Linked DNA regions of Homo sapiens: region 2 is linked to region 1. Evidence: fine-mapped expression QTL. A gene starts in region 1. The other region holds a variant in brackets. All regions are shown on one strand. Distances are from middle to middle.

Region 1 (16,004 bases):
GTACAAACAAAAAACAAAAGAACAAACTGTGTACAATACATCTGAATTAGAAATAATATGAACTACATCATTTCTGAAGATATGACAGTAATAGAAAATCACCACTTTGTAATCCCAATGTCTCACTGATTTACACAAGCATCTTCAATGAACACTAAAACCACTAGATGAAATGCTGTTAGGAAACAGAATATTCATAGTCTCAAAATATCACCCCACAGTTTTGTTACTAATTGCAAACAGGAAATGTATCTTTACATTGGAGAGATCTTATAGCCCCCACCTTTACCAAGTAACTTGGTATCTATTGAATCTAGAAGCTAGGTACTAATGGATACCACTTCTCTCTAAACAAACCAAGTATAGTATGATTCCACTGACATGAAATATGCAGAATGGGCAAATCTATAAAGCTAGAAGGTAGATTACTAGTTGCCTAGGTACAGGGGAAATGAGTTGTTGTCTAAGGATAGGAGGGTACAGGGTTTCTTTGGGGATGATACTAATATTCTAAAATTGATTGTGGTGTTGTCCACGTAACTGTGAATGCACTAAATCATACATTTTAAATAAGTGATTTATATAGTGTGAATTATCTCAATAAAGCTTTTTCTAAAAAAAGAAACGATTACAATTGTCTTTCATTCTAGAGTACATAAGAAACCCTAAGGAATATTTCATCTCCCAGACCTCTATTGTTGGAGTATCCCAGAGGGTGGTCTGTGGATCTCTTTCCTATATATACTCAGTGTCTTGGTGAGGTTACTCATTCTCACAGGCCTAAATATTGATGACTTCCAGACTGTTATCTCCAGCCTTGAACACTGTTGACCTCCAGACCCATGTATACAACTGCCTATTCTACGGTTCCACTTATCTAACAAGCTATCTCAAACTTAACAAACTGAGCTCCAGATATTCCCCTCAGAATCCTGATCCAGCCTTCCCTAGCTCAGTAAAGGGCCACTCCCTTCTTCCAGTTGTTCAGGAAAAGTATCTTGAAGTCATACTTAAGTTTTTCTCACCCTGTGGTAGTCCGTTCTTGCATTGCTATAAAGAACTACCTGAGGCTGGGTAATTTACAAAGAAAAGAGGTTTAATTAGCTCACAGTTCCACAGTCTGTACAGGAGGCATGACTGGGGACGCCTCAAGAAACTTACAATCATGGTGGAAGGCAAAGAGGGAGGAGTTACCTCTTACATCGCAGGAGCAGGAGGAAGAAAGAGAGAAGAGAGAGGTACACACTTTTAAACAACCAGATCTCAGGAGAACTCACTCACTATCATGAGAACAGAAAGTAGGGATGTCTGTCCCATGAACCAACCGCCTCCCAACAGGCGCCTCCTCCAACACTGGGGATTACAATTCGACATGAGATTTGGGTGGGGACACAAATCCAAACCATATCCTACCCCATGTCCAATCCATCAGCAAATCCTGTTATCTCCATCTTCAAATTATAACCAGAATCCTACTTCTCACCACTTGCTACCTCTCTGGTCCAAGTGACCATGACCTCCCACCTGGATTATTGCCAAGGGCCTCTCCTGGATCTGGCCCTTACCCCACTTCAATCTATTCTCAACATGGCAGTCAAAGTGATCCCATTAAAACATTTATTCAAGTGTTCACTCAATAAACACGTACACATATTACTACTCACAAAGCACTTTTCTAAATACCTAAATATTAGTTTATTTAATCCTTATAACAATTTTACAGATGAGAAAACTAATAAGGCACTTGCTCAAGGTCACATGCTTGGGAGTGGCAGTGCCAGGAGTCAAACTGGAGGAGTCTGGCTCTAGAGTCACACTCCTCAATACTATGTAATACCTCACTCTGCTCAAAACTCTTCAGTGCAATAGATGTCAACCTTGGCCACTTATCAGAATTACCTGGGAATTTTAAAAATTCCTGATGCCTACGTTAAAACACCACCTCCCCCACCACCGCCGACCAATTAAATCAGAAATTCTGGGATGGGATCCAGGCATCAGTACTTTTTTAAAGCTTCCCCAATCATTCTAATGTTCGGCCAAGGTTGACAACCTGTTTCAATGGGATCCCATCTCACTCAAAGTAAAAACCTAAAAACCAAAGCCCTCATAAAGACCACTAAGCCTCGTCTGCCCTGTTACCCCATCCCAATACCCACCTTACTCATTCATTTGGCCGCTGGACTCACCAGACAAGATTCCCACTCGGGGACTTGTAACTCAAAGTCACGTTCTCAGTGAACACTGCCTTTTAGATCTTATCTAAAATTGCAAATCCTCCAAACCGTTTTGCTACTTCCACCTTGGTTCCCCATGTTATTCTTCTCCTTAGCATTTATTGATTATCTAATGAATGATACAGTTTACTTATTTACCTGATTCTTGTCTGTTTCCCCACACTGTAATGTAGGCTCCATGACAGCAGGGATTTGTTATTTACTGTTGTTTCTCCAATGCCTAACACAGTGGCTGTCACATGCAAGACCCTCAGTAACTATTTGTTGAACGACGGATGAAGTAACCCATAATTACTGCATCAAAGATTAACGTTAAGTTTCCAGATAGAAAGTTGTTTCTTCCTCATCAGACAAGAATCATTTACCAGATTTAACTGATTTATTTAAATAATGGAAGGAAAAAGTTTCAAATACTGTATTTCCACTTAAATTTATATTTTTAGTGAAACTTACATGAGGCAAAACCAGACACAATTATATTATTAACATGCCTCCCAACCCAAATTTCTCCTTCAGCTTTACTCATACTCTAAGGTATAGTTAGATCTTACAAATCAGTCATAAATTAACATAATTACAGTTAACACCTCATCAGTCAGGAACCAGGAAGCCAAAAAATAAGGCAAAACACAGAAACAGCCTGAGTGATATAAGAAAAAGCAAAGAAAAATTAAATTCTGTACAGTGAGACCTCAACAGGCCCACAAGACTTCACTATTATTTGTTAAAACATGTCGAGTGGGACTAGTCCTGTTGCCCCACAATCACTGACAAACACAAAGCTGAGGATATATAGACATAGAGGATCAAATATCTGTAGAGTCAGGCATGGCTCTGGCACCCTAATCAGCACCATCCTTCCACTCTGCAAGAGCAGTTGACAGAAGAGAGGGAAAGAACTGTAAGTCTTCAGGGAGAACGCAGGGAAAAGAAGGAGGTCTTCACCAAAACAGTGGCAGGGGCCTCTAACAGAAATCACTCATGAAGATCAGAGGAGCCTAGAACAGACTTGCATCCCATTCTCCAGTTCCACATCTGCTTATGCAGCAGACTGAGTGACTGACCCCATGTGTCTACTTGAAAAGGGGGACAAAGAGAATTGATGAGAAATGGCAGGGCACAGAAAGAAGGCAGACTTAAGTAGTCTGTATGCCACTATTCGACATCACAAGGAAGTGAGTTTCCAGTGGGTTGAATAGAAACCACAGCGTACCTGGATTGAAGTTGTTTTGCCATTATCAAAATATCTCGCTGCAGAGAGAAAAGATCTCCACCCCGACTCACACACATTCACGTAACCAGTGGGTAAACTGACAGGATGGGAGCAAGCAGATGGGTGTGTAGGTTGGAAAAGGTTTAGCTACAGAAAATTTCATACCCAGAAACTGTGCAGCAGGAGTCTCCCTGCAAGATCTCACCAAAAATGCCAGTTTGGTTGCCTATTAGTAGACTGCAATGGCCTGCCACTGTTAATCAAGAGAGGACTCTAATAGCACCAGATAACAAACACTTGTCTTTTTCTACTTCTCTTCTTGACACATTTGTATCCAAATAGATCCCTTAAGAGGGAAAGGAAAGAAGTATCCCAGGAGCTTACCACAAGCCGTCCATACCCCAAGTGCTTCAGTAAGTAAGTGGCCTGACCACAGGGTAAGGAAGGGAAAAAAAACCTTTAAATTGAATATATATGAGATTGAATGTTCAAACTGGAATAGACTGCAATTTTTTGTTTTTGTTTTTCTGTTTTTTTTTTTTTTTTGGAGACAGGGTCTCACTCTCCTGTCACCCAGGCTGGAGTGCCACAGCACAGTCTCTGTTCACTGGAACCTCTGCCTCCCAGGCTCAAGGGATCCTCCTACAACAGCCTCCCAACTAGCTGGGACTACAGGCACATGCCACCACGCCCGGCTGATTTTTCTATTTTCTGTAGAGACAAGGTTTCGTCATGTTGCCCAGGCTGGTCTCAAACTCCTGGGCTCAAGCTATCCTCCCACCTCGGCTTTCTGAAGTGCTGGGATTACAGGCATGAGCCACTGAGCCCAGCCTAGAGCTTTTTGATAACTGTAAATGACAGAAAAGCTATCATTTACCCATGATGTTATGGGGGGTGGGGGACAGGGGGGTGGGAAAGAGCCTACAAAATACAGTTAAAGGCAGTGAATAGTGAAAATTAAAACTCATTAAAACTCTTGTGTTTGTTCTCAGTAAGCTTGGACTGCTGAATAACCTGATGACATATGCAATAGCATTCTCATCCTTAATAATGGGAGGGAACACCTGACATGGAAATTCTCAGGAGGGATTTACTGTACCGGGTAAGATGCTACATTAGAAGCCCTCTGACATCACTTCCAATTCTAGTGCCTGTGATCGTCTTTTCCTTCAAGAGGTTAAATTCAATCCAGAATCTAGAGTTCAATGGTTAAACCATAAAAGGCTAGGCTGCCTAAAGGGCTAAAAACCACAACTTTCTGGAGAATAAAGCTATCAGACTGACAAGCCTGGTAAGAGTTCCATGTAGGAAACAATATTTTGCTCTAAAACTTATTTAACTTAAAAAAATCTTAAATGACTAATTTTCTTTTATATCCAACAGAAATTCCAGTTCAAAGAAAGCTTATAAAATCCCAAAAACCCTATCTTCCTGAATATTATCAATTCAACTAATTAAAAGGCTTACTAAAATAAATAGCAAACATATGTTTGCTTAAGCATCTTCTAGGAATCACAAACTCACATATCCCTTATTAGACAGTACCCACAAGAAAAAAAGTTACTTAGGGTCAAATGGTTTAATATTGCTCAGTAAGTGTAAGAGAGTTCTAGTGCTATAACAAATAACAGGATGCTTTATGTTTACATAAAAACATCCCATATTTTTATGTTTCTAAAAATAATTAAGCATTATAAACAATCATCTAAAGCTACCAAGTTTTCTGCCCTTTCTGAAAGCATTCCTTTCAGACACCATGTCAATAAATTCTTAAATGCTGGATGTGTACTCACAAATGGTCAAAAAACCTAAAACCAAATCTTAATATTTAACTCCTATTGAAGTCATTTTATTGTATCATTGCAGATCTAAAACAAGATTTTTTAATCTTGAAATTTAAATTTTAATATTAACAAAAGTAAACTGCTCCAGCATGAGAAAAGTAATTATTTGCATATTACCTCAGCTCACAGTTGGAATCAAATAGGAAATACTTTAAGGCAGTTAGTTATATCAACCCAAAATTTTCTAATAAAAGCAATGTTACTATTGTCACAAATAATTACTACACTATATTCAGAAAACTATCTTCCCCATTCTCAAATAAGTTATTTAAACAATAATGACTTGACATCAAGCAATATGTCAATGTCAAAGTATGACTTAAATTATATTAATAAACTATTTATTAGATTTCATTCTGGGTTACAAATTATCACACAATTAAAATAACTTCGGGATTTGCAGCATGACTAATAATAATAAAGAACTTCCAGGCTTAAGTCAAAAAGCCACTTTGTTTAAATCTCCATTAAATGTTTTTTGTGGGGGGAAGTCCCCATAAAAATGTAAAATGTTTCCACCTTTCCCAAGTATCTTCCTAGGAGTGGTCAATATTGTCATATCCTATATGTTAGCAAACGATACTTGAATGACTTTTAAAGAAAAGAATCCAATGCTATTCTTAACATCCTTAAACACTTCTAAAAAGGTCCTTCCGGCTTATGAACTCATGGCAGTTTCCTCACAATTGTATACTTATCCTGTTTCACTGTCTCTCCTAGTCTATGACAAACTCAATTTTACACACCATCTTTCCTATTTTGTTACACTGCTAAAACTGGGGAGAAAAAAAGATACAAACCTGCTACTTTCCCCCCTCCCAAAGCGACAATGAAAATACTAATTAACAAGATAAAGATTGGAAGCTCTGCGCGCGCCCGCGCGGTGTGTATACACATATATTTATATTATATATATATATATATATATATATATATATATCTTCTTAATGTCACTAAATTCACAGCCATATATCTTGATACAGGTATACGCTACAAGAGAAAACTGTCAGTAGATACAGTGTAAGGTTTACGGCAGTATAAAATAAATTAACTACTTTATTAATTCAAATTCTGTCAAACTTAAATACTCTTTTTTAAATGTATCAGTACTCTAAAATGCAATTTTCCTTGGGAAAATTGGCCAAGATAAAAAATACTTTAACTCCACTAGGGGAAATATTTCTTTTGCCACAAGTGTGTCAACAGGAAAAATTAAGAGCATGAAAAGTAAACAGGTATTTTGATCAGAATAAATCTTATTATTTTAATATAACGGGTCTTCAAGTTCTTCAGATTGTGAAGAAAAACACAGTTTCACAAAACAATCACATAACTCTTACCCAAACTTTGCTGTAAATGGTTTCAGTGGCATCAAATTAACATAGAAAGTATGCAAGCTGAGTACTTGGGAAAATAAAGCAGATTGATCAGGAGTTCTAAGATGAAAGACAATGGTGTAAACCTCATAGTGCACTATTTGTTCCAGTCATTAAACACACAGGAAATAAGATTTTCTATTTAGAAAACTAACTCACAAGGGGCAATGACTTCATTAAAACAAAGAAAATCTTATTAAAACAACGATCAATTGTAAAATAAGAAAACCAGTACTGCAGAATTGGAAGGTGAAACAAACAGACGAGGAAAACGCAGAAACTGCCTGGATATTTATTTGTTCCTTGAACCTCTTCTTGTACTGCCCCCAGAGAGCAAAGGAGTTTCATTATTTATACGCCCAGACCACGGTAGATGCTCTGCGCGGGGGCACAGCCTCACCAGAATTCTACCAAAGGCGGTAAACACTATAAGCAACAGGACCGCTTTCATTATGACACACTTTCCCCTCTTTCCAGGAGGTCAATAGAAAGCATCTGAAACAAACCACAAACCACTCAAGACGGCCCCAAAGCTCTGCGGTTGGCAGCTGGCCTCGGCGTCGAAAGACCTGGGTCTGGTCGCCTCCCCGGTGCCACCTGCGTGACCTTGGGCAAGTCGCTTTCAACGCTGCCTCTGGCCACCTGCCCCGAAGGTGCGGAGGTAAATCGCGGACACCGCCCGACTTCAGGGCCCAGGGCGGAGCCGGCTTCGGCCTCGGCAAGTCCTGAAGCCAAAATGCATTAAACACCAGGAAAGGATGCCCGGGGACGCGCGCCCCGCGGGCACAGCCCTGGAGGGAGGCGCTCCGACCGGCGCCACCGGGAATCCCCGGGCAGCTGCGCGCACCGCGCCCCGAGCGGGATTTCTCGGGGGGCGGAGACGCCGAGGAGCTCGTCGGCCCCGCGACCGCCGCGGGCCTCCCGCCCTCCCCCGCCGGGCGCCGCTGAGGGCTGACGTCGGGAAAACAATCGGGGACCCACGGGAAGAAGACGCCGCCCCCTCCCGCTGCCCCAAGCCAGGGCAGGTGAGCCGGCCCGGCGGCCTCCAGGTGCTGTGGCGCGTGGCGCGGACGTGCGCAGAGGGGGCGCCGGCTCCGCACTCACCAGCACCCACCGCCCCTCTGCGGACGCCTCCCCGCTCGCCACAGCGGGAACCGCGCTCCAGCAGCCCGGCAGCCCCGCAGCCGCCGCCACCTCGCGCCTGGCCCCGTCCACCACCCCTGCTCCAGCGCGGCCGCGTTCTTCAAGCTAAACTTTACCGCGGCCTCGGCCCGGAGCACCCGCGCCGCCGCGGCCCCGGCTCCCACAGAGGCTCGGCTGCCCGGAGCGGCGTCCGCGACGGCCAGCCCGCGCACTGCGCACGCGTCCCCACGCTGCCTCAGCCCTCAGACGGCGGCTGAGATTCCGGAGCGGGCGCTCCCAGCCCGCAGAGACTACGAGTCCCGGCAGGCCCCGCGCGGGTCCCTGCGGCGTGGCGGGCCGAGTTTCTGGCGTCTTCCTGGTTCCAGCGGCGGCGGCCTCGGCGCGCCGGGGAGGCCTGCGCGCGGAGCTCTGGGCCGCCGCGCCGCGGTGCTTCCTGGTATTCGTAGTTTTTGACCACCACTGGGCTTGGCTCGGAGGTAGAACTCCGGGTTCTCTGATGTCATCGCCTAGAGCTGCGAGGAACAGGGATCTTTAAAAATAGGCTTCGTTAGTTTGCAGATAATTTGTTTGCAAGCTGTCCCATAATCGGTCCAAGTGTCACAAATTTACAGGCTGCGGTGTGACCTGGAGAAAAACGCTTTACAGCTCTGCGCGCCAATTTTTCGCTCTTCTCTCTCCCTGCAAATGTAGCTCCACTGCCTACTTACAATGGTGTTAATAGTACAGGAGGGTAAGAGAGACTTAAAGAAGGGTTAGTCGAAATTCTTTCAGCAACGGTGGAGCATAAATATGTATTCTGGTAAATATTCGTTGAGTGTTTAGCAATTTCTCGAGCACTTAACTGTGTGCCAAGTACGCGATAGGCAACCCGGCATTCATCTGAGAAAGAGACACTGTCACTGCCCTTATGGAGCCTGCAGCTTGGGGGAAACTCGTCCGCAAACTAGCAAAATCGTTCCAGATTTTAATAGAATGGCCAGACTGAGAAAGTTCAAGAGACAGTAGCGGTGGCGGGGACGGGGGGAGGCTCTTCAGAGAGAGTGGCAAGGCAAGTTCTCTGAGGATGTGATATCTGAGCTGAAACCTGAAGAATGAGAAATATTCAGACAGGCAAAGAACTGGGAAAGAATTACATGCCACGCCTTTCACAGCGCATGCCACTCTAGGCTCTTAATAAATATTTGTTCTTTTTGTGTGCTTCTTCCTTTCCTCTCCTTGCACAACCTTAGATCACATCCTATCCCCTTCAAACCCTTTAAAAAATCTTTATCAACATCTTTTAGAATATCCTTCCTATGTGAAAATGTACATGAAACAAATGTCCAGTGGTAAGACAAGCTGTACAGCTGCTAGGACAGAAGACACAACCCTGGTGACAGGCTGGAATCTATCTACTTTGCCACTTTCTTTATTTGCGAACTGGGTTAGAAGTCTGGGGGCTCAGCCTGGCCTCCTGACTTGTTTCTCTTCATGGGGCATCATACAGGATTTTGAGTTTGTCTTTATTAAAATCTTAGAGGAAGCCTACCTGTTATCTGAATCAGAGGTGTAGTGAAGAACAGCCCTAGATTTTCCTGTGTAGACTTACCTATGTGACTTTATGCAGAGAGTGACACTTTGCCCTTCTGACCCTCAGTGACCTCGACTGTAAATGAGTGTCATCCACCCTGCCTGCCTTGCAGAATGTTCTCAGAGTCTGATAAATTGATGGAGGTGAAAACATCTTGCAAACTGCATAGAACGGCTCTCTGACTGCCTCTTTGAGACTTAGCATTTTCAATTGCCTTTCATCCAACGTGATATTTTGGTTATCTTTTGAGAAACCTTAGCTATGCAGCCTTGCTGACATCTGTCCCTTTTGGGGTCCTCATCTGTATAATGGTTGAAAGGGTTTGGCCTCACTATAGTTTATAAAGTAGCCAGAGCAGATTGTTTCCTTTGGTCCACACAGTGGGTTTTTGTTGATTTAACTGAATGTGTGGTTAACATTTAAAAATAAAAATCTAGGTGTCACCTGTCTTATCCCTGTAGGCATTTGAGTTTGCCTTCCCTGGCTAGAAGGTCTGGAAGGAGTCTCTAGCTTGTCAGTGCTAGAATCCTAGAAGATTCCAGATGGGAAATTTGTTTATTTGAAATTCAAAGTCAAATTCACATCTTTTATTTGATCTGAAAATACTGGTCCTGAGAATAGAACACTTAGGCCAAGAGCCTCTCACCCTCTCCAGGCTGGACCCGCCGGATCTCTCTCCTAAATGTTGTTTGACATCATTGATGAGTGGTTTGAAATTGTTCCTTTGGCCAATGTGATGGCTCCTGCTTGTAATCCCAGCACTTTGGGAGGCCAAGGTGGGCGGATCACTTGAGGTCAGGAGTTTGAGACCAGCCTGGCCAACATGGTGAAACCCCCTCTACTTAGCCAGGCATGGTGGTGGGCACCTGTAGTCCCAGCTACTCGGGAGGCTGAGGCAGGAGAATCAACTGAACCCACGTGATGGAGGTTGCAGTGAGCTGAGATCGTGCCACTCTACTCCAGCCTGGGGGACAGAACGGGACTCAAGAAAAAAAAATTGCTCCTTTGTTCTTTTTGCATAACAAGTCCCCAAAACTGTTTATCATTGAGAGCCATATTTACATACAGTAAAGAAAGCCAGAAAAGTAACTCAGTTTGCCCAAGGACACACAACAAGATAATCCCAGGACTGCTTTGAGGTTGCAGTATAACCAGAACTTCATAGCTCCCGATCAGCCAATAAATACAGAGACAAAAAAAAAAAGCTCTCTGCTTTTCTTCCAGCCTCTTTTTTTTTGGATGCAGAGGTTTATTACATAACAGTGCTTTCAGTGCTATTTAAAAAAAAAATAGTACAGGGAAATTACAGTCTGGGAGCAAACCAAGAACACTCAGGACTCACTGAAGGCACTGAGGAATGCTGGAATATTCCATGGCTACTTTTCATCTGAAGAAAAAGGAGGAGTCTGAATTCAAGGATCTATAGTTTAGCTGTTTACTTTTTTTTTTTTTTCTGCCGGAAGGGACAGAGTCTCGCTCTGTCGCCCAGGCTGGAGTGTGGTGGCACAATCCCAGCTCACTGCAACCGCTGCCTCTGAATTCAAGTGATTCTCCTGCCTCAGCCTCCCAAGTAGCTGGGATTACAGGTGCCTGCCACCATGACAGGCTAATTTTTGTATTTTTAGTAGAGTCAGGGTTTCTCCATGTTGGTCAGGCTGATCTCGAACTCCTGACCTCAAGTGATCTACCCCCCTCCTCAGCCTCCCAAAGTTCTGGGATTACAGGTGTGAGCCACTGCCCCAGCCTGCAGTTTACCTTTAAAGTATCACTGTCATCATTATCATCATGCTTTGCACGTGTGAAGTACGTTGATGTTTCATTCAAAAATAGCTCTTGGGCCCCTTCCATATGCTTAGTGCTGGGCTCTGGGGCTTCCAGACAGACGTCAGCCCCTCTGACAACACAAAAAGCAGCGTACAGAGGCACGCAGAAAGCTCCTGAATGCTAGTCACCTCTCTAATATTTGATGTCTGCAGCATTTCCTGCATTATCTTTTTCCCCTTAGCAATGGTCACTTTTGTACATATTATATATGTGCATATATATTTTTTTTTCTGCATATCCCTCTAAACTGTAACCTCCACGTGGCCAGGGATTTTATGTTTTGTTCCTGCTTGTATCCTTAGTGCCTACAACAGAAGTATGTGTTGAATGATGAATGCCACAGTCCCCTTTATGGACAGAGCCAGCATCAGAAGCCAAGCAGAAGGAGTACCTCCAGAAGCAAACCTCTGTTCTAACCAGAAATCAGAACCAAGATAGAACAAGAATTAAACATGAACTGAACACTCTCTGAACCCGGCTTTGTTCTTTTTGTGTCCCCTCCAGAAACTGGGTAGCAGAGAGTTAAAAACGGCTTTTCCCTATTTTTTAGTGTAAAAATGGCACAAGAACTCCAGGCAGCGAGTCAGTGGAGTTGCTTCTGTGGGTGAAGAGTCGGAGCTGGCTTTCTGACCCTGCCTCACAACTGGCAATGACCAAGTGAGGGGAAGCATGATTCTCAGTAATCACCCCAAGCAGGCACAGATTAAGTGACCTTCCCAGATTACCAATCAGGTGACTGGAGTCTCCTTCTGGAGCTAATTCTTGCATCCCAGGGCTGGGGCAGAACAATCCTCCTTCAGGAAGGTGCCACGAAAGATTGTCCACATTTTATGCTTACCAAGGTGGAAGAATAGGATTTCTGAAAAAGTCAGCAACCAGCCCAAATTCCAGGCCCACACAGGAAAAAAAACAAAAAACAAAAAACAAAAAACTGGGCATCCGGGGAGATGCTTGCCTCCAAGACTTGTAGAGAGCAGAACTAGGTCTTTCCTGCCTTAGGATTATCAGACAAGGAAGGGAGCCCAACACTGAACATCTGGGTTGGACAGGATCTAAAGTTGCTGAAAGCCACTGGAGTTCTAAAGGTCCCCAGCAACCCTATGATCTCTGGGGGTCTGGTGGGTTCCAGCTGCATCTACACCCTAGTTAGGTCATACATTAATTACCCTGACCACATGTGGCAGGCCTGGGATGGTGGTAAACCCTAAAATTGCAGAGCACAGGATGCTTGCTGTCATCCAAACATACGGACTCTTGCTCCAATGTGGTGTGAAAACTTGAAAAACAAGATTTTCTGAATCAAGATGATCATCCAGGGCCACACTTGGGTTGCTAATTGCAGCACTGAAGTAGGGAGCATTCTAGAAGGTGAAGACTCCTTGCAAACAAAGCTGGGAGAGAGGATCTGGGAACAAGTCCATCTTGGGCTTCACAAGCTCCTTGGCCTGGGGGAATTGTACCCTCAGACCCCTTCCCCTTACCAGACAGGGCACAGTGGCTCACGCCTGTAATTCCAGCACTTTGAGAGCGAGATGCAGGCGGATCACAAGGTCAGGAGTTCAAGACCAGCCTGGCCAATATGATGAAACCCCATCTCTACTAAAAATATAAAAATTAGCTGGGTGTGGTGGCGGGCACCTGTAATCCCAGCTACTCAGGAGGCTGAAGCAAGAGAATCGTTTGAACCTGGGAGGCGGAGGTTGCAGTGAGCCGAGATCGCCTCACTGCAGCACTCCAGCCTGGGCAACAGAGTGAGACTTCGTCTCAAAAAAAAAAAAAAAAAAAAAAAAAAAAAAGGAAGAGAAGCACAGAAGTCACTGCTTCCACCAGGAGAGTCTGGATGTCATGGGCCCCAGCCCAGGAAAGGAAAGTAAGAAGCTGGGGCCCTGGAGTCCATCTGCCCTGACTAGCTGGGTGACCTCAAACATGTTACCTCATTTCTCTGGCAATAGTTCCCACTTCACAGCCCCATCATTAGTCCTAAATAAAATAATGCAACAAAGGTCTGGCAGGTATTAGTGGCTCCATCAGTGTCAGCATTTCTATGATTTAGTTCGGCCTGATTCCCTGAGCCCACCTGACCAAGGCGATAATACATTCAGAGTCTCTTACATGGGCAGTGGGTAGGTTCTAAAAGTACTTTGACTGCTGTGGTCCTTGTTCATATGAGGGTGACTGGGATGGGATTGTGGTGTAGGATCTCGTGGAATTTGGTGCAATGGGGGAACAGGGCCGTGTGGATATGGTGCTGGGGACGTAGCAGAGACCTGACTTGGAAGGGCTCAGGCCGCCAAGCTAAGGGGGCACTTGAATTTGTTTCCCCACAAATCTAAGACTTTTGAAAAGCACTCCCAATGATTCTAATGTGCAGTAGATGTTTGGTTGTGCACCTGACCCCCACCCTCTCCTGGCCCAAAAATAAATAAGTATAAATGAACTGACGTGGGAAGACTAGAGCAGGGCTGTGATGACATCATCATTTCCCATCTTGTCTGGCTCCTTCAGAAACATTTCACTTTCATCTAAAACCTCCAGCTTGCCCTCCTTCCCCTACAACCTACCTGCCCTTAGACTAACAGCAGGGGCAGCTTTAGAAATAGCGTGCCTTCCCTGACCCCCTGGCATGTAAGTACATCTTTGTTCCTGAATGGCATTTAATAACAGTACTTTATGGTGAAACAAAAGCTGTAATCAGAGCCCAACAATGGAAGCTGCAGTCAGCGCTGAACAATACTCAGAATTCCCATGGTGATCCCCCCCATCCGCAGCTGTGAGAACCAGAAGTCACAAGCACGAATTCCATTCACAATTATTTGCCCAGTCCCATTGCAAGTTATGCGAATCACGGCTTTCCTGACCCCTTGGCGTGGCTTTCGAGGGGCTGAGAAGGGATGCCAAGCCTGGTCCCCAGCCAAGGGCAGCCAGTGCAGGTGTGCACATGGGGCTGACTCTGAGAAGCCAGTGCGGCAGCACGGTGACAGAGCCAGACTGCTCCCACGCTGGAGACTCCAGCAGCCATCTCTGCACCAGCACTTCATGCAAAACTTCCTTCACATAAAAGAAAGCTTTCTACCTATTTCCTTATCTGAAACTGCAGTCTGCACATTCCAGGATAAGCCTAGCAGCAGACTTCTCCTGCACCAAGTCCTGGATCCTTGGGGAAAGAAGGTCTTTAAGAGGGACTGCTCTCATGGGTGTCACGCACATTAGAATATGCTTCACATTAGAACTACTGGGAGTGCTTTAAAAAAATTCTTAAGACCCTACCCCAGCCCAATCTGAATCTCTGGTCACAAGAAACTGGGATTACTATTATTTTTTCCTTCTTTTCTTTTTGCTTTGTTTTGAGGTATAACTTAAATATAGTAAAGCCTACAACTCTTAAGTATAAAGCTCAATAAACTATGTGTCCATCATCCAGGGCAAGATACATTTCAACACCCCAGAAGGCTTCCTCTAGCTCTGGAAGCCAGAGGTAACCACTATTCTGATTTCTAGCTACATAGATTAGTTCTGTCTGTTCTTGAACTTCATATAATTGTCATTACACAGTATGGATTATACTCTTTTGGATCTAACTTCTTTTGCTCAACATTGTGTCTATAAAATTTATCCTCGTCAATGTGTGTTGTATTGCTGTGTAATATTCTCTTTTGCACACAAAGCACAATTTGTCTATATTCCAGTTGACGGACATTTGAATTTCCAGTTTTGAGCTATTATGAATAAAGCTGCTATGAACATTTTTATGCAAGTCTTTGGTGGACAATTGTACTCTTTTCTCTTGGATATTGGGTGGAGTTGCTGGGTTATATAGTAAGAGTACATTTAGCTTTATAAGAAGCAGTGAAACTGTTTTCCAGATTGGTACACCAGTTTTACTCCCACCAGCAGTGTATGAGAGTTCCAGTTGCTCCAAATTCTCACCAGCATTTGATACTGCCAACCTTTTTATTTTAGCCTTTCTAGTAGATGTGTAATGGAATCTCACTGTGGCATCAGTAGTTTTAAAAGACCTTCAGATGATGCTAATGCAAAGCCAGGGCTGGGACCCAAGGATATTATCTGCCTCTGTTTACAGACAGGAAACTGAAGATAAGAGGAGAAAGAGTCAAAGTCAAACTCGGAGCTCCCCACTCCTGGTCCAGGAATCTTCCCATGATACCTCTCCCTGGATGCTTAGTATTTGTCTGCCTTCCTGTCAGAACAAGGACAGATCTGGGCCAGAAACTGGGCATGACTTTAGCATCTTAGCACCACTGAGAGGGAGCAGAAGGAATTGGCAAAGCCCCTCAGGCTGGCTCCAGGGAGAGCATGTAGGTGGTCTGAAGCACCACAGCCCAAAAGCAGAGAAACTCCAAGCTGCTGTCAGTACCTGGAGAAGCCCTGGAGACAGCAGTCAGCATCCTGAGGGTAGCACCTGGCAAAGCCAAGCCCCTTAGGAGTTCTCATCTCAGTTCTGCCAGTTCCTAGTCACCCATACAGAAGCCTGATCACCACCTTTGACTCCTTCCCGTCTTCCTTCCCCATATCCAGTGAGAGACCAAGTCCTGCCAATTCTGACTCCTAAACATCTTTTGAATCCATCAATCCTCTCTGTCTCACTTTTCCTAGGTCCTCCCATCTGTGCCTGGACTCCTCACCAGCCTCTCTCCAGAAAAATCATTTTCCCATACAAACCTGATAAAGCCATTATCCTGCTTAAAAGCCTTCAATGGCTCCCAATTGCCTCAGAATAAAATCCAAGCTCCTTGCCGCAACTCTCCCTGGGCCTCTAAGCTTTCAGACCCTTTGTTT
Region 2 (16,004 bases), 32 kb before region 1:
AGCAAGTATTTTTTATTTTGATGAGGTCCAATTTACCAATTTTTGCCTTTTATGATAGACATATATTATTTTATAATTTTTAAAACTATACTACAAAATAAATGATGCAATAAAATTATACCCTCCATAAAATCCTAGAAACTACTGAAATATCTATACCAAAATTACAATGCAACAAAATCTTAACTCTAGACAAAATTAAAACAGCCACAGATACAAACTAATACAGTGTCTTAACACAACTACAGGAAAATAGTCTTACCCCTTATGTCAACATAGGTCATAATACCAGTGAAAGAAGCTTAATCTAGGTACATAGTAACCAGAAGGTTAACAGTTTAAAATCATTACTTTTGGAAAAAGTAAACACACAATCCTAGCTTATTTTTTTATCCAACTTTGGTGGAAAATGTATGCTCTATGACAGCAGGGAATTTCTGTTCATTAACATACCCTTTGCCAAGCATAAAGAAAGCACTCAATAGTTAATTAATTAATTAATGTTGTAAGATTTCTAATCCCACTAATCACCCTCCCGTAGCAAAAGACCTGAAAAATGTGGGGAATGATACAATTTGATTTAAAAGATTTATAAAGTGTCAAAGTCTTTTGAGTTCAAAAGGCACACTGGTAATGAAAATACCCAAGCTTGGCAATACCAATTGATTACTTTAAAATTCTTGGTTTCTCAACTACTAGTAACTTAATATCCATTACAAATTCATCCTTTTCAATAGCAAAACAAGAAATTCAAGCTCAGACAAGAGTTTTAATTTCATCAAAAATTGTATGTAAATTTATATTTTTCCTAAAACTCAAATAAAGACTTAATTTAGCATATTAGTACTTCTGAGATATAACTTAGTTAAAATTCCAGTCTTCTGTTTAGCTCACTTAGGCCAGGTTGTAGAAAAAATAGATTTTAAAAATTACTACTTGCAAACTCTTGACTCAGCAATTTTATTTCTAGGAATTTCTCCTTTAAGAATATTCATCATAGCATTGTTTATAAAGTAAAAGAAACAAAAAGGAAAAGGAACTCTATTTGTCCAATAGAGGATTTGTAATTTATGGTAAATCCATGGAAGAACTACTATGCACTCATTAAAAATGATATAAAAGGATTTCTGATGACTTGGAAAATGTTCATGATACAAGTGAAAAAATCTGTTTACAAAATGTAATATACAACTCATATCTCCATTTCTGAGGTGAAAAGTACATGAAGAAAGGCTCAGAGAAATCATGAGAAGTTTTAAATGTTATGTAATTTCCAAATTTTTTATAATAAATACTTTTGAAATAAACAAAAATATTTTATAGTAATTGTATATTATACCAATTAAGCAAAGATGCACTGTTTTAGTTTTAATAATATAAAAATCAATATACAATAATTAGACCCTCACACAATAGAAGAGTTACTTAATTACCTGAGTGGGAGTAATGATGGGTACGCCACCAACAATATCAGTTCTGTAAGACACTTGCTTTTTCCCACATTCACCATGGCGACTTAGGTTATCAGAATTAGGCTGTGAGTCTGACTGCTTTGGTACCTGAAATAGTAAATAAAATGAATCATTTTGCAACCAGCATTATACATGTGAACCTGTTTTCTCGCAGAATTTCTAATTATTCATCCGTTTGCATACGGTTGACAGATACATATAAAAATTATAGTCCATGTATGTACTCCTTAAGTTATCACACTAATTTTTCTGTTAGAATAATATTTTATAATATAGCTATCACGTAATGAGTGCTTACTCGGGCAGGTACTAGTTCACACATTTTTCTCCTTTACTACTCCTGTCTACCCTATGCATAGGGGCTCTACCCCCACCTAAGAGGTAAGGAAATAGGCTCAGGGGCATTAGGGAATATAGATTCAGATCCTGACTATAATACATTCTAGCCAAGTGTGTGTAACTCTTCCAAGCCCAACTGCTGTGCTCTAGACCCTGTTTATTGGCACACTTACTATTGGCTTACAGCTCTTTGCTGTTTTCTTCCCTTTCTCCATTCCTACCCATGATTCTGGGATTGTGGCATATTCAGTCTTTCCTGGCTTCAAGACAGAGACTATTACCAAAACCATAGTGTATTCAATAAATGTTGAAAGACTCAATGGATGAATCCAAAGTCAGCAGAAAAAAGAATAGCAAAATTCTTAAAACAAATCAGAAGTTTCAAAACAAAACTTTTCATTAGAAATTTAAAGAAGGAATTCCAATACTTGGATCAATGATAAATCGTTCACAAGTACAGGAAAACAATGACTGTGGTAACAGCAGAATCTCACATTAACACCTCACTAAAGTGGATGAAAGAATCAGAGGTATCATAAATTTTTAACATATATTTTTGCTTTTCTTATGTGATCTATTCAGTAAATAAGGTACTCAGTTAATCATTATTTCTATCTGTAGACTGTTTAGCACATAGTCTGTATTTAAATTATACATTTTTAAGGCTGTGAATAAAATGTAATAAAATCTGCTCAGCATCAATTATAATGTTGAACATGATTTAGTCTTCTCCAATGATTTAAAGGGCACGTGGAACCTTGCAGTCTTTCAGAAACACTATGACAAATACTACTGACAATCACTGAAGTAGTGGTGTAGAAACATTTAACTTAAATAGTTTGCTTGTCATATAGCTAATTCCTGTTAATAGAGTACTGGTAGAACTACAGGACACCACTCACATTGTATTCAAAGGCTCAAACCGTTTATTAGTGTGATTCCAAAGCAGTGTGATTTCTCAAACTTTAGAGTGCATAAAGTATCACCCAGGAACATTATTTAAAACTTCAGATTCCCCTGCTTCGAACCCAGAAATTCTGACTCAACATATCTATAGTGCAGCCCAAAAACCTGCACTTTAAGCAAGAACACCAGACATTTTTGAGGCAGGAGTTTCATAAACCACACTTTGAGAAACACTGCTCTAAAACCTGTGCTCTTCTTCCATACGATGCTACTCCCACCAGATTTGTAGAAAAGAGGGTATACAATGCAGATAAGGATTTGCAAAGCAGCTTTCTGCAAAATATTGAGCAAACATGGTCCATGTGTATATGAAAGGATGCTGAGCTACAGTAAGTCCCAATCCACACAAATGTAATTTATGGATATAATAAATGACTTGTCTCTTAAGTGACTTCTAAAACTCCCTCTCCCTTCCTTCTCCACCTGCCTCCCTTGAAGAGGTTTCTCTCAGGCCCCAGGCCCAATCCTCCAGCCTCTGGTTCGTATTCATACTACAATGCCCTCATCCGCAGAAACAAAAGAGAGAGAAAACAGGAAAGAGAAGAGAATCCTGAATACCTCTTGAATTCTTCTAAGAACTTGCACACTTTGGAGTGCTTTTTAAAGACAATAAAATAATGAAGAGAATTTTCCTTGTCAAATAAAATTAGGATAGTATACCCTGGAATGATTTGCTAGGGAAGCCCATTATATTTTCTAATGAATAGCACCATATATTTCAATTATTCTGACAGAGAAAATATGGCCCAGTTATCTCATTGAGAAGAACAGCAACTAGCATTAAGAGAACCTGAAACCAGAGAGAAAACAATCTATTCAACTAGATAAAATGAGAGGTGCTGCTAAGAGGTGACCCATAAGAAAACTAGCAGTTATTCTCTCAAGAAGTTTAGTCAGACCTGGGAATTATTAGGAAAAACCTTTAAAATCATTCTAAAAAATACCGAAATTTATATTGGTTTTTCCATTTTTCTTAAATTACAGTATATTAAAAGTCCTTGCTTATGCTGTTAAGCTCACTGCTTCTAATTTGTCTTTATAATAAAATCAAATGCTAGTAGTTAACTTAGAACTGCATTTTACTATAAAAATTATCTAACTTGTAATCATCTTATTCCCTAAGAACAAGAAAAGTTCAAGCAAAATACCCATGAACATGGATAACTCCTCTAAAAACAATATGTACCTCTGTAAAACTTGGTCTAAATTCAGCCATTAAGATAGACATTTTCAGGACACACCCCTGCCCCAAACCATCCAACTGTCCAATGAAAATCAGAAAAGTGATCTCACTGGGCAGTTGGCACATGTCAGACACTGAATCCACTTGGTTTCTTTGTCTACTGCCTCTCTCCCTTTCCTTGGCTTTCTATCCTTTTTTATGTCCCAGCATTTTTTGTAGGAGATCTGAATGTAATCTTGGCAGGCATTTGCATGTGATCCTAGTAGTAGGAAATTCTAATAGTAGGAAAAGAAAAGGTAAAAATAACTAGAGAATAAAAAGATGAACAAGACAGATTTAAGTATTTATGAGTGAAATACATAAAAACGCTGCAGGTTTCTCAAAAGTTAAAGGGAAAGTTGATATTCAATTCACCAAGAATGAAAATATAATGTTGGGCTAGGCGCGGTGGCTCACGCCTGTAATCCCAGCACTTTGGGAGGCCAAGCTGGGCGGATCACTTGAGGCCAGGAGTTTTAAAACCAACCTGGACAACATGGCGAAACCCAGTCTCTACTAAAAGTACAAAAATTAGCTGGCTGTGGTGGCACACACCTGTAATCCCAGCTACTTAGGAGGCTGAGGGCTCAAGAATCACTTGAACCCCGGTGGCGGAGGCTGCAGTGAGCTGGGATAGCACCACTGTACTCCAGCCTGGGCAACACAGCGAGACTCTGTCTCAAAAAAAAAAAAAAGGATAAAAAGAAAGAATGAAATTGTCATAATGTTCAATTCACTGAGGATAAAAACGTGCAGACACAAACTCCTGGGTCTTACAATCTTTCTGAGAATTCTACATCTACTTGTTTCCAGTTTCTATTAAAAATATATCAAACTTGTGGAGTTTCTGCCACAAATTCAAAGTACTAATTTTTAGATTCAAATCGAACATTTATTTTTAAATTTTAAAAAAGACATGTTTAAAAATAATGGATCTCTGTTCAGGAATAAACCATATATATCTTAGACATTCCTTAATAATCAATAAGGGAACAGAAACCACCATATTTATGTTGTTTCCACTATATTTCCACTATATATATTTCCACTATAAATGAACAGTGGAAAGCATACTTTAAAATTTGATTTTCCTCACTCCAGTCATTGATACTCCCCCTTCGGGGCTGATTCTCCCACTGTTGCTCTTTTCCTTTTTGTGCGTATGTTTAATACAGATGGTCCAGGACTTACAATGGTTCAATTTTTCAACTTTACAAGTGGGTTTGTTGGGGTATTAAATGGATTTTCAACTTGTGTTTTTGACTTACAATAGGTTTATAAGGATGTAACCCCATCATAAGTTGAAAAGCAACTGTAAAGGGAAAAGAATTTCAAGTGGCACCCACCTAGACTCAAGTAAGGAAAGTCACAGACTATAGCGTTAGAGGATAATGGATTAAAATGGCAAGATATTATAACTAGGAAATAGTTTAAAAATCATCATTCCCTTACCCATTGCCCTCTAACCACCTCTATTTTGAAACCACACACTTCCAAACTCTAATTTTGGATTTCCAAAATTTTAAAATTTATATATCACACAGTACTTAGCAGACCACTAAATTAGAGTTGACCAAAATGAGAGTGATCCCATAGAAAGATTTATGTATTAAGTACATACATCAAAATGTACATTTTAAGTTTTCAAATAATCTACATGTAAATCATCAGCAATGTTCACAGGAAAATATAACAAATTGGAGATTCCACACTTTAATACACTTAAATGTATAAAATGCACATGAAACTGGTAAGATATTTTTAAGGAATAAAATTAACATAAAGCATCTTATTAAAGCATAGGAAATTATTTCATTGCTATCCTATGAGTTAAATGTGTGTCTATCAAAAGTTTATTTTTAATAAGTACTATCAAATCTATACTCACTTTAATGCAGTTATAACCACTTTATTAAGTAATAAGGATTTCTATAACTTCTATGTATTTATATTTTCCAAATGTGAATTATAAAAACATTAAAATCATTTACCAACAAATTTATCTTAAAAACTATAAAAATTTCAACAGGTAAAATAAAATTGCAAGACCACAAAAGCTACTTAGAAGTCTTTTTAGAATTCTATTTAGAATCTCTAACCTGTTTTTCCTTCATGCTGAAAAGCTTACCAGTGTCATTTGTATAAGACTGTTTCATACCATTGATAAATCAGACATAGCAATTCAAGACCCCCCAAAATGGTAAAAAGCCTGAGACCATTCACTACTTTTTCTCTTAAAGCACTAAGAAACCAGTGCTGCTTGTTATTGCAAATGGTAAAACATGAATTTAGTACAGTTACGAGATATTATCTTTCTAAAGAAATTTTTCAAGCAGGGAATATTTATTAGAAGAGTTAAAATGATTAGCTAAAAGCTTTTAAGAATATGTATGTCTGAATCAGGTTAAAAAATTGCTTTCCTGACACTGCACAAACCTAAAATAACTTCTGCTTCATGTACAGATCAGATGCGGTGCGTAGGCGTTTTCTGTCATGTGGTAACAAGCTGTTCTAGAGCAAAACAAAAAGATTCGACTAAACTCTGAGAACAGCTTTAACTATATTGACTCTTTATTGTGTTGTGATATAAATAGGAAATTATTCATTTTAGATGGAAACTAATGAGTGACTAACATATGCTGACTTTCAGGGCACATGTTCTTTGAGAATAAGTCACTTAGGGTCAGTATATAACTGCACTTTCTTTAAAAAAAACAAAAACAAAAACGCAATTGACACAAATCTCACAACACAAGAACTCCTTCCCAACATTTTCCAGGCAGGCCTGCTATGTATTTCTCTACAAAAGTGTAAAGGGAAAGGTGAGGCAAGGTATAATCAAAATAGAGCCTATCTACGTGCTGCTCATCATCACTAGCAAACTCTCTCAGTAAAGGTTGTTGTTGGCTTTAGGAACAAAAGAGTAAGGAGAGGGCTGTTCTTGTTCAGGAAGCAGTAAGGCACTGCACTTCAGAGTTCGGGCTCCAGAGG[C/T]CAAAAAACTGGACTGGGCTTCCAGCTCCATAATCTACCAGCTATAACACTGGTAGATTAATCTTTCTAAGCCTCACTTTTCCAGTTCATTTAAGTAAAACCTTCGGTCTAAGATCTGGCACAGTGTTAATAATCAATAAATATTCATCAGGAAACCAAAAAAGAAAAGAAGCACACATTAGAAGCAAGAAATTGTAGCATGGGAAAGGAGGGCAAGGGTACCAAGCCCTGGAATGCAAGGAAAAAAATCAGACATGGGAAGAAGTTTAGAGCCTGAGACAAACTTCTCAAGGGTCACATGGACAGGACCCTCTGGCTGCCGCAACCCTTCAGACACTATTCCTATCCCTAACCCTCATTTTTCAGCCTTCATCTCCCCTTGTCCTGCTCCTGTTTTCAACTCTTTCCCTATCTGACCCCAATCCCAGTCATGGCTTAGAAGAGAGAAGTGCCTATTCCCCAGGTAGGTGACAGGAAATCTCTTACACTATATTGGAAGAAAAATATATATCCTCCCGGTAGAACTCTACGTGCTAAGCGCATTTTCTCCTAGAAACGTTGCAAGAAGTGATTAAGATCTGCAGTAATATATCTCCTTATTAGGTGCATAAGTTAAAAAGACAATCATGGGCTGATTAAAGTGCCAACAGTCACCAAGTACAAGAAAACATATTCACATTCTGAACACCTGTCTTTTAAACAAAGCTTGAGTATGAAACCTGTTGGTAAGCTGGGAACATTTGGTAGGTGTATTTTCAAAATGAAAAGATTAATTCCAGACATCGAACGTTTTTCAAAAAAATACATATACTTACTGTAATTTTTATAGCTTTGTTTAACACATTTACCCATTCCACTAGGTCCTGCTGATCATTGGCTTGTAGGAAGTACTTCCTCATTCCTGCATTCATAACTGTTGACAGAAAAAAATAACACACCAAATATTGTACTTATTACCTCTAAATTTATGTTTGCAGTAGCTGAAAAACCTTGCTAAGTTCAACACCGTGACTCTCGTGGATTTGACAAAATATATCAGACCACATGTAATACAGCTTTTATCACACAATAACACAGGTAAAACTCTTATTTTGTTATGGCCATTTTGTTTATTAAATGGATACACCACAATACATTTAGTCAATCCCCTAATGATAGACACTTAGGCTATTTCCGGTTTTTGAAATTATATAAAATATCACAATGAAACATCATATACATATATTTCTCCACACTTGGCTAGCATTTCTGGGTGATAAATTTCTTGACATAGATTTGTTGGGTCAAAGACAATTGACATTTAAACTTTTTATAGGTATTTCCAAATCATCTTCCCACAAAGTTGAATCCATTCACATTCCTACCAACCACATACACATTTTATTTCATCGAATACCCCTCACCAGAACTGGTTGTTAGCACCTGTGGATACCTCTAGTTTCTAGTTTTCAAAGGCTCTGTGGCACTGGGGCTGGTAGTCTGCAAACAATATTTCCTAGACCCCATCTGAGGCCATTCTCTGCCACTGGGAGGTACTGATGAGAGACTGTAAGGTGGGAGAGGGGAGAAGGAAAGAGGAGACTCTCCTTGACTCCTGCTGTTGTTGACCTCTCTCCAACAGCAGCACACAACTAGCTACTGTTAGGAGCCTTTTCCTGCCCCCTATGCCAGCCTTGCAGAGTCCCCTTGGATACTAATAGCTCCATGGTGGCTTCTACTCCACTGCCCTAGGTTATAGTAATACTACTACCCCTTCTCTTTTGTCTCTCTAGCCCTTGAGTAGTAGTTGCTTCATGCGTCTAATTCCTGGGTTACTTCAGCATTCCCTTCATGTTCTTTCAGCCTTCCAATATTTGGGTAACCAATTCCCCATAACAAATCCCTTAGGTTTGAAATATCTAGTGTGCTGTTTTCCTGGCTAATACTCTTTAACAACCTAATTGGTAAATAATTGTACCTTGTTCAAATTTTAATTTCTTTGGTTATTGAGATAAATTAGTTTTGTAAGTTTATTGGCCATCTGCATTTATTTTGTAAGTTTTGTTTACTTTCTTTACCCACGTTTCTCCTGAATTCATTATTAATTTATAGCAACTTCTTTATTAATCTTTTCTGCTTTATTACCAATACTTTACCCAGTCTGTTTTACTTTAACAGTATTTTTGATCAGACAGAAATATACTATGAATCTTTTCTATAAATGCATCCAGATTTCATATCATCTAGAAAATCTCCCTAACTTAAGATCTATTTTTCTAGACCTTATGAATTTCCTTTATATTTTGAATCTTAATACATTTGGAACTTTTATGCAATTTAGTTTCTATATTCCCCTTTAGGGACTAGGTACTTTTATCAAGCAAAGCACATGTGCACATACAGTTGTCTATAAACTATCATAGTCCACTCTTGAATTAAAGCTATTTATTATACACCATCTGCATTTATTTTTAAAAGCATAAATATTATTCTAGGAGCTAAGTATCTGAATAGTTATACTGTTGCAATTGTTCAAATATAAAAATAACTTCCAAACGTCTCCACCAAAATTTTAAAAGATATACTAGCACACAGTTCAATGTGACTGAGAAGGGGAAATGCAAACTCTCAAGGAAAACACACAAGATTTTGAAATTGGGACTGAGACCAAAACACTCTAAACTACAGCTTCCTTGAATTGAGATGAAGGTCTCAGAAAGGAAGTCAAAGCCTATCTTGTAAAGTGCTACAAAACAACCAGTCTATAACCTTAAAAGAAATTTAACACACTGGAAATCTGTTCTTGTACATCTTTCTAGAGACTGGAAAAGTTATAACTGCCATAAATATGTATTAAGATAAATCCATAATTCACTAGGATGCTATATCTATCAATAAATAACTTGTTTTTAATTTCTAGCCATCGGTAAGGCTTCCTTTTATAATCTTTTTTCAGCTTAGGCTGAAGCAGAGCTCTCCTCATTCATAATGGCTTCTTCCCCTCAATGTTATTTTGGGCATCTGCCCAGAATATCTGAAGAATTTAAAAATCTATGCACTTACTAATATACTACACTTGGTACACAGTAAATGCTTAATACATATACTTTTGAATAAATATATAAGGATCTTTTCTAAGGGAAGGAAGAGATGCAAATATATATCTAAAAAAGACCCCTAGTATACCTTGCAATCTGAATAAAATCTCATGTACTTTAAGAATTACTTCATGGCAAGACGTAGATATATAGGTATGATCTAGAAAAAAAAAATCAGTCTGGAATCAATCCAACCTGACTAGCTTATGCACTTACAAGCAATATCATCTTTTAAACATTATTTAATTTCTCTGAGCCCGATACTCCTCATCTGTGAAATGGGAATGTCACTCATTCCACCTCCTTAAGAGGTGACGATCATATATGTAAAGAAACTAACACAGTGCTTGGTATAGAATATTCTTCACTGCCATCATCTGGAGATTTCTAAGGAGTAAGGAAGCACTATAAAAAATGTAAAGCAGGGCACAGTGGCTCACGCCTGTAATCCCAGCATTTTGGGAGGCCAAGGCAGGCCAGTCACTTGAGGTCAGGGGTTCGAGACAAGCCTGGCCAACATGGTGAAACCCTGTCTCTACTCAAAATACAAAAATTAGCCAGGCGTGGTGGTGGGCACCTGTAATCCCAGCTACTTGGGCGGCTAAGGCAGGAGAATCGCTTGAACCCAGGAGGTGGAGGTTGCAGTGAGCCAAGATTACACCATTGCATTCCGGCCTGGGGGAGTGAGGCTCCATCTCAAAAGAAAAAAAAAGGGGAAAGCAAGTTACTGAAATGTGGTGTATTAGCAATATTGGTGGTGAGGGGAGAAAGGGAAAGAAATAAAATCTTTGAACAATAAAAAAAAAAAAACTCTGACACTGCTAAGTTGCCATAAAAACCCTAAAGCAAGGGTTTCATTGTGAATAATACATGCATCCCTAGAAGCTTGTATCCTTCCTATCTTTTCCACTTGAGTATTTAACTTCAAATCTTTATGATTAGAATGAATACATAAAATGGATAAAACTTGAAGCATAAACATTAGCTTAACTGCAAACAAAAATCATCTCACAACCTGAGATCAACTGGTTATGAATATACGGTTTTGGATCAAGAGGTTCTAAGGTATTTTATCATATTCTTTGTCAATTTTCCCCACTCTGTTTTCTCTATTCTGTACTTTCCTCTGTCCTCTCAGTCTCTATCAGATGTTGGACTTCCTTGATGGTTTTTATCTCTTTTCCATTATCTATCTTTACCTTTGTTGTACTTTCAGATTTCTTTGACTTTTTCAAAGAAATGCAAAATGAGTTTTGCATTGTCTCATGTTCCTTCTCCTGTTTGATAATCCGCTCTCATCAAATGTTCAGTAATCCTGGGCTGTCTATTCATATTTTAAAAGAAAGTGCTAAAAAGACTGATGAAAAGCTCTCTTGCATTGTCGTAGGGCTGTTGATTGTGGACCTTACTAGTCAACTATGGCAAGCTCTTCTAGTAGAAATGCCCAGATGTCAGTCAGTATCTATGGATCTTTTCTCTAGGGTAGTCAGATCTTACTCACCTAAACCTGGCTGCCCAGTGCTCTGGGGCTGGGGTTGCACTGATTGTGCAGACTTTCATTTAAGATATCTTCCTATTTTCAGTTTCGTGCCTCATTCCTTTCGTTCTCTGGGACTAGTGCCCCTAAATATACAGCCTCACTGATTCTATTTCTGGAGACACCACACATCCCATTACCTGCTGGGACAGAAGAAGGGTGTCTGCCCGATTGGAGGTAGGGAACAGAGGTTGTTTCTGATACAGATATGCAAACAAAGTCCCTGTTTTTGGTCCTTCCTCACTGTTGCTTCCCCAGAAAATGTATCTCCTATACCTAAGCCTATCTAGAGTTGGGGTGGGGGCAGAACACTTAAATGGTTAGCTTTTCATTGGCCTCTTCCTCCACTCTGCTAAATTATCTACCATTCCTCTATCTACTTTCCAACTTTATACACTGAGGGTTACAGATACTCTGCTCCCTCCATCAAAAATGGCTTGCACGTTTCTTGTTCTCACTGGTTTGGGACAATCTGAGAGAAGATATGTTGCCACTTTGAATGAAAGTTGTGGTTCTATTTTAGAAGTCAGTGCTTCTCTCTCTGAAGGTAAGCATTTCATGAATCTTTACTCCCACTAACAGTAGAGGACTAATAAACTATTGCCTGACCAATGAACGACTAATCTTAGTTTTTGATTCCAACTAAAATCACCCATTCTAAATACTCCAATAACTATGAATGTCAAGTCTATTACTGTATGTTACTATTCCTGTAAGTTTGAGATTTTAGAAAAAAAAGGGTTGTCAAAAGTATGTGCATTATACATTCTAAAATACAAAGTTCTCAGTTATTTGACTTGCAATACCCATTCAATTACAAGGCTCTGAGGCATTTTCCTGTTTCGTAACCAAAATTATAATTAGTAATAAACATGTAACTTTTAAAAATAGCTTCATAGTGAGATAAAAGCATTTTAGAGGATTCCCTTGACAGCCACGTTTCATCTTGCTCATATCAAGATGCTATTCCTAACTACTGCCTAAAGAAATCTGCCCTTTTCAAGCAAAAGAGAGCAAAGAACTTCAATTCTACTCCCAAAAGTATCTCTCACTTTAATGTGAAAGTCTCTTTTGATGTTAGTTGACCACTCCAAATATTCGTTCCTTCAGTCACTCATGTCCACTAACATACTCTCTGAGAGGGTATCAATTCTCCTAGCTTCGACTACCACCCACTTTTCAACAGACTCCGAATTTCTCCATTCTTGACCCTAAAGCTCCATCCAGTCCTCGATTACTGTCAACAGAACATTTCCATTTGGAAGTTCCCCACCATTTCAACTCCATAGCAAACATTTTACCCTATGTAACCAGCTCTCCCTGATTTCTCATTTCTTTACTTGAAGCAAACTTCCCTGCTACCTCTCTCTTCCCTCCAATTCCCCCATATCCACCAAGCCCCTGCACTTTTCCTTCTTTTCACCCTTCCTCCTTCTCCTATTGCCACCACCCTAACTCAGGACCTTACATAAGTACAGTAGTTCAAAAGACACTTACCCAGTCTACCTATATCAAAACTTTCCTATGCATACAAAAAAACAAACAAACAAACAAAACCCTCCTTCACCTTATGTCTGCTTTCCAGATGCTCTCTTTTTCTTCTCCTTTGTTCAAAGTAATAAAACCTATTGCTCGTCAAAACACAGCACCCTGGCTTCTGCCTGCCTTTTTACTCTCTAGCCATTTATCATACCCTCTAGCTTCAGAGTGTTCAGCTCCAGAGACACCACGCTCTTCTCCCCACAAGCCTCTGCATGTAGTCCTCCTGCCTTTTCTCTGCAGTGGTAAAGGATATAAGCAGGAGGCTAGCTGGCCACCAACGTAAGCATCTCCTCCTCCAGTGAGGCTCCCCGACTCCTGAGCTCCCCAATAAAGATTTGAAGGTCATTCTTTGTGCTTTAATAGACTGCATATCCCTTTATCTACAGGTTGTGACAACTGCAATATTAATTGCCTGGTATTTTTTATTTATGAGCCAACCAGCCTTAAGGGCAGCAACTGTTTCTTATTCATCTTACAGCTCCAGTGCCAAGCACAGTGCCTGGCATATACTAAACATTTGCTGGGTAAGTTAATCCAATACCCTCAACTACTCCTACCCCAAACTGAGCATTTCTCACTACCCAAAAGCTAAAGACCAAATCCTTTTAATTATTTATATGTTTAATATAGAATAACATGACGTAGAAAGTTTAAAATTCCCTGAAATCTCACTGGAGGTGATCATTATAAATGCCAAAATAACAGTTACATATGGGTAGAAGGAGATGTTTGTAACTAGGACCGCACACAGGAAAGAGGCTTCAGGGTTAGGGGAGAGGGGGTGCAAAATGTTATTTCCTTATCTGTATAGCAGTTACAAGGGAATTCACTTTAGAATAATTCATTAAGCCCTAGGTTTTGTGTGGTTTTCTGCAACAGTTTTCTTTTACAATATGATACAATTATATCAGTCTATTTAAAATATATATAACATGGCTACTTACCAAAACAGAACTCCGCCTTTGGCCTTAGCTTAGTAGCATCGCTAACCTAAAAAGAAAAATAGAGACGGGTTCCTCACTTCTCCATATAATCCTAAAACCAACCTTATATACTATGTAAACTTCCACATGTATGATTCCCCAATAATCATACACATTTAGTAAACAGACTTAAAATTAAAGACAACTAAAAGAGGATGGCAAATTTAAATACATAGGATGCAGTTCCCAACTGTAAGAGGTAACAAATAATACTTCCATATTTTCTTTGAACAACTTGTTTTCTCTTCAAAGAAATGTCAGAGAGAAGCTGAAAGTAAACCATTAGGCTTTATGTCATACACACAAGTATTTTTAGTTTAAAATAATTTTCAAAATATCCTCAATGAATATTCTACAAGAACTATGCATTCTTCCCAAATAACATATTTCTAAATTAGCTATGATTTTTAAGCAAAAATGGGGCTGGGTAAAGAGGAGACTGTGTATTTAAAGTCCACAAATCTAGGCTGGGCACAGTGGCTCACGCCTGTAATCCCAGCACTTTGAGAGGCCAAGGCGGGCGGATCACGAGGTCAGGAGATCAAGACCATCCTGGCCAACACGGTGAAACCCCGTCTCTACTAAAAATACAAAAAAAAATTAGCTGGGCATGGTGGCGGGCGCCTGTAGTCCCAGCTACTCAGGAGGCTGAGGCAGGAGAATGGCGTGAACCCAGGGGACGGAGCTTGCAGTGAGCCGAGATCGCGCCACTGCACTCCAGCCTGGGAGACAGTGAGACTTCATCTCAAAAAATAAAAATAAAAATAAAAATAAAGTCCACAAATCCAGGCATTTAATTGAATTAATCTTAATCTTAATAATTAAGATTAAGACATTAATCTGCTATGAGGAGATCAAAATGGGACTGGATCCTCTCTTGTACAGGAGAATGCCCTAGGATAATGGGATCACTTTATTAAATGCAGCTCATGGTTCATTTTAGAAGATGAGGCAACTAGCTGCATTTGGTTGCTGCTATCCCTTTAAATCAAGTACCTCCCAGAAGCTCATTCACAACTATTGCCATGCTGTTGTCCAGTGATAGAACTTATAATTGTAGCATCCGTTTTGCACCTTCAAAAGGAATTCTAAGCCTGGGGTTCCTCATTGATCCCAACTACAAACTCACAGTTCTGAGTCACACAAAAGTTTGTTCCAGAAATAAATTTTTGGAACAATAAATTTTTTTTTGGAAAAAAAGTGGTACGTCCAAAGTAGAGTACAAACTGCACAATTTAAACTTCAGGAAGCAGGAGGACAAGATGAAAGTTACAGAACTGCACAGAAAAAAGGTTCTATTTTAAAAGAAGAGCAATGGAGGAGAGGAAAGCAGCTGGCCAGTTACCCCACCTACTTTACTGATTTCAAGAAAGAGCTTCCATACAATATTTGTCGTATGTAAATTTACATAGTATGATCTTAACAGAAAAATGTTTCCTTTTAAATGTGTAATCTTTATTGTCCAAGGGCTCTTTTCTTTTCTTTTTGGTCAATGAGAATGAATACCTCTACTGTAATACTAATATAAAGTATTTTATTTATATAACATCTATCTTCTAAACAGAGGCACATTTGTAAATTGGTCTTCTGTTGAAGTGATCTACCTTTGCCAACAGATCTCAGTATATGCATAACAGTACCCATATTATTTAATAATACTGTTGCTACCTTTTGCATCTCATATATAAGTAATCAACAAACTTTTATTACTTTTATGTAACACACATGCACACACACACACACACACACACACACAAACCCATAGGGTTAGCACCTCAGCATCACTTAGTTCCCTAAACATTAATAGAAGAAAATAAGAAAAAAATGTACCTGACAAACATAAAATCAAAATTTTAAAAAATAAAAAATAGTATT

Direction of the effects. Positions count from the first base shown, and alleles are read on the strand shown. Sizes are in standard deviations (SD) of each study's normalised expression.
For the expression in atrial appendage of the gene that starts at base 8,028 in region 1, T is the high allele of the variant in region 2 and C is the other (small effect, 0.27 SD a copy in GTEx).

What was found.
Region 2: its variant is fine-mapped to the expression of PLEKHA1 in atrial appendage (GTEx, PIP 0.91).

What each region holds. Positions count from the first base shown.
Region 1 is chr10:122,366,732-122,382,735 of GRCh38, reverse strand. PLEKHA1 (pleckstrin homology domain containing A1) reads right to left here and starts at 8,028. Exons shown (of 12, transcript NM_001001974.4): 1 at 7,930-8,028. RefSeq lists silencers at 7,421-7,620, 7,631-7,790, 7,811-7,880, 7,921-8,030, 8,171-8,320 and an enhancer at 13,594-14,118.
Region 2 is chr10:122,398,475-122,414,478 of GRCh38, reverse strand. It overlaps PLEKHA1 (pleckstrin homology domain containing A1), which reads right to left. Exons shown (of 12, transcript NM_001001974.4): 4 at 14,091-14,136; 5 at 7,806-7,903; 6 at 1,434-1,559. Among named protein-coding and RNA genes, the nearest start is that of MIR3941, 10 kb to the left of the region's middle. The variant C/T (reference allele first, on the strand shown) is at 6,991.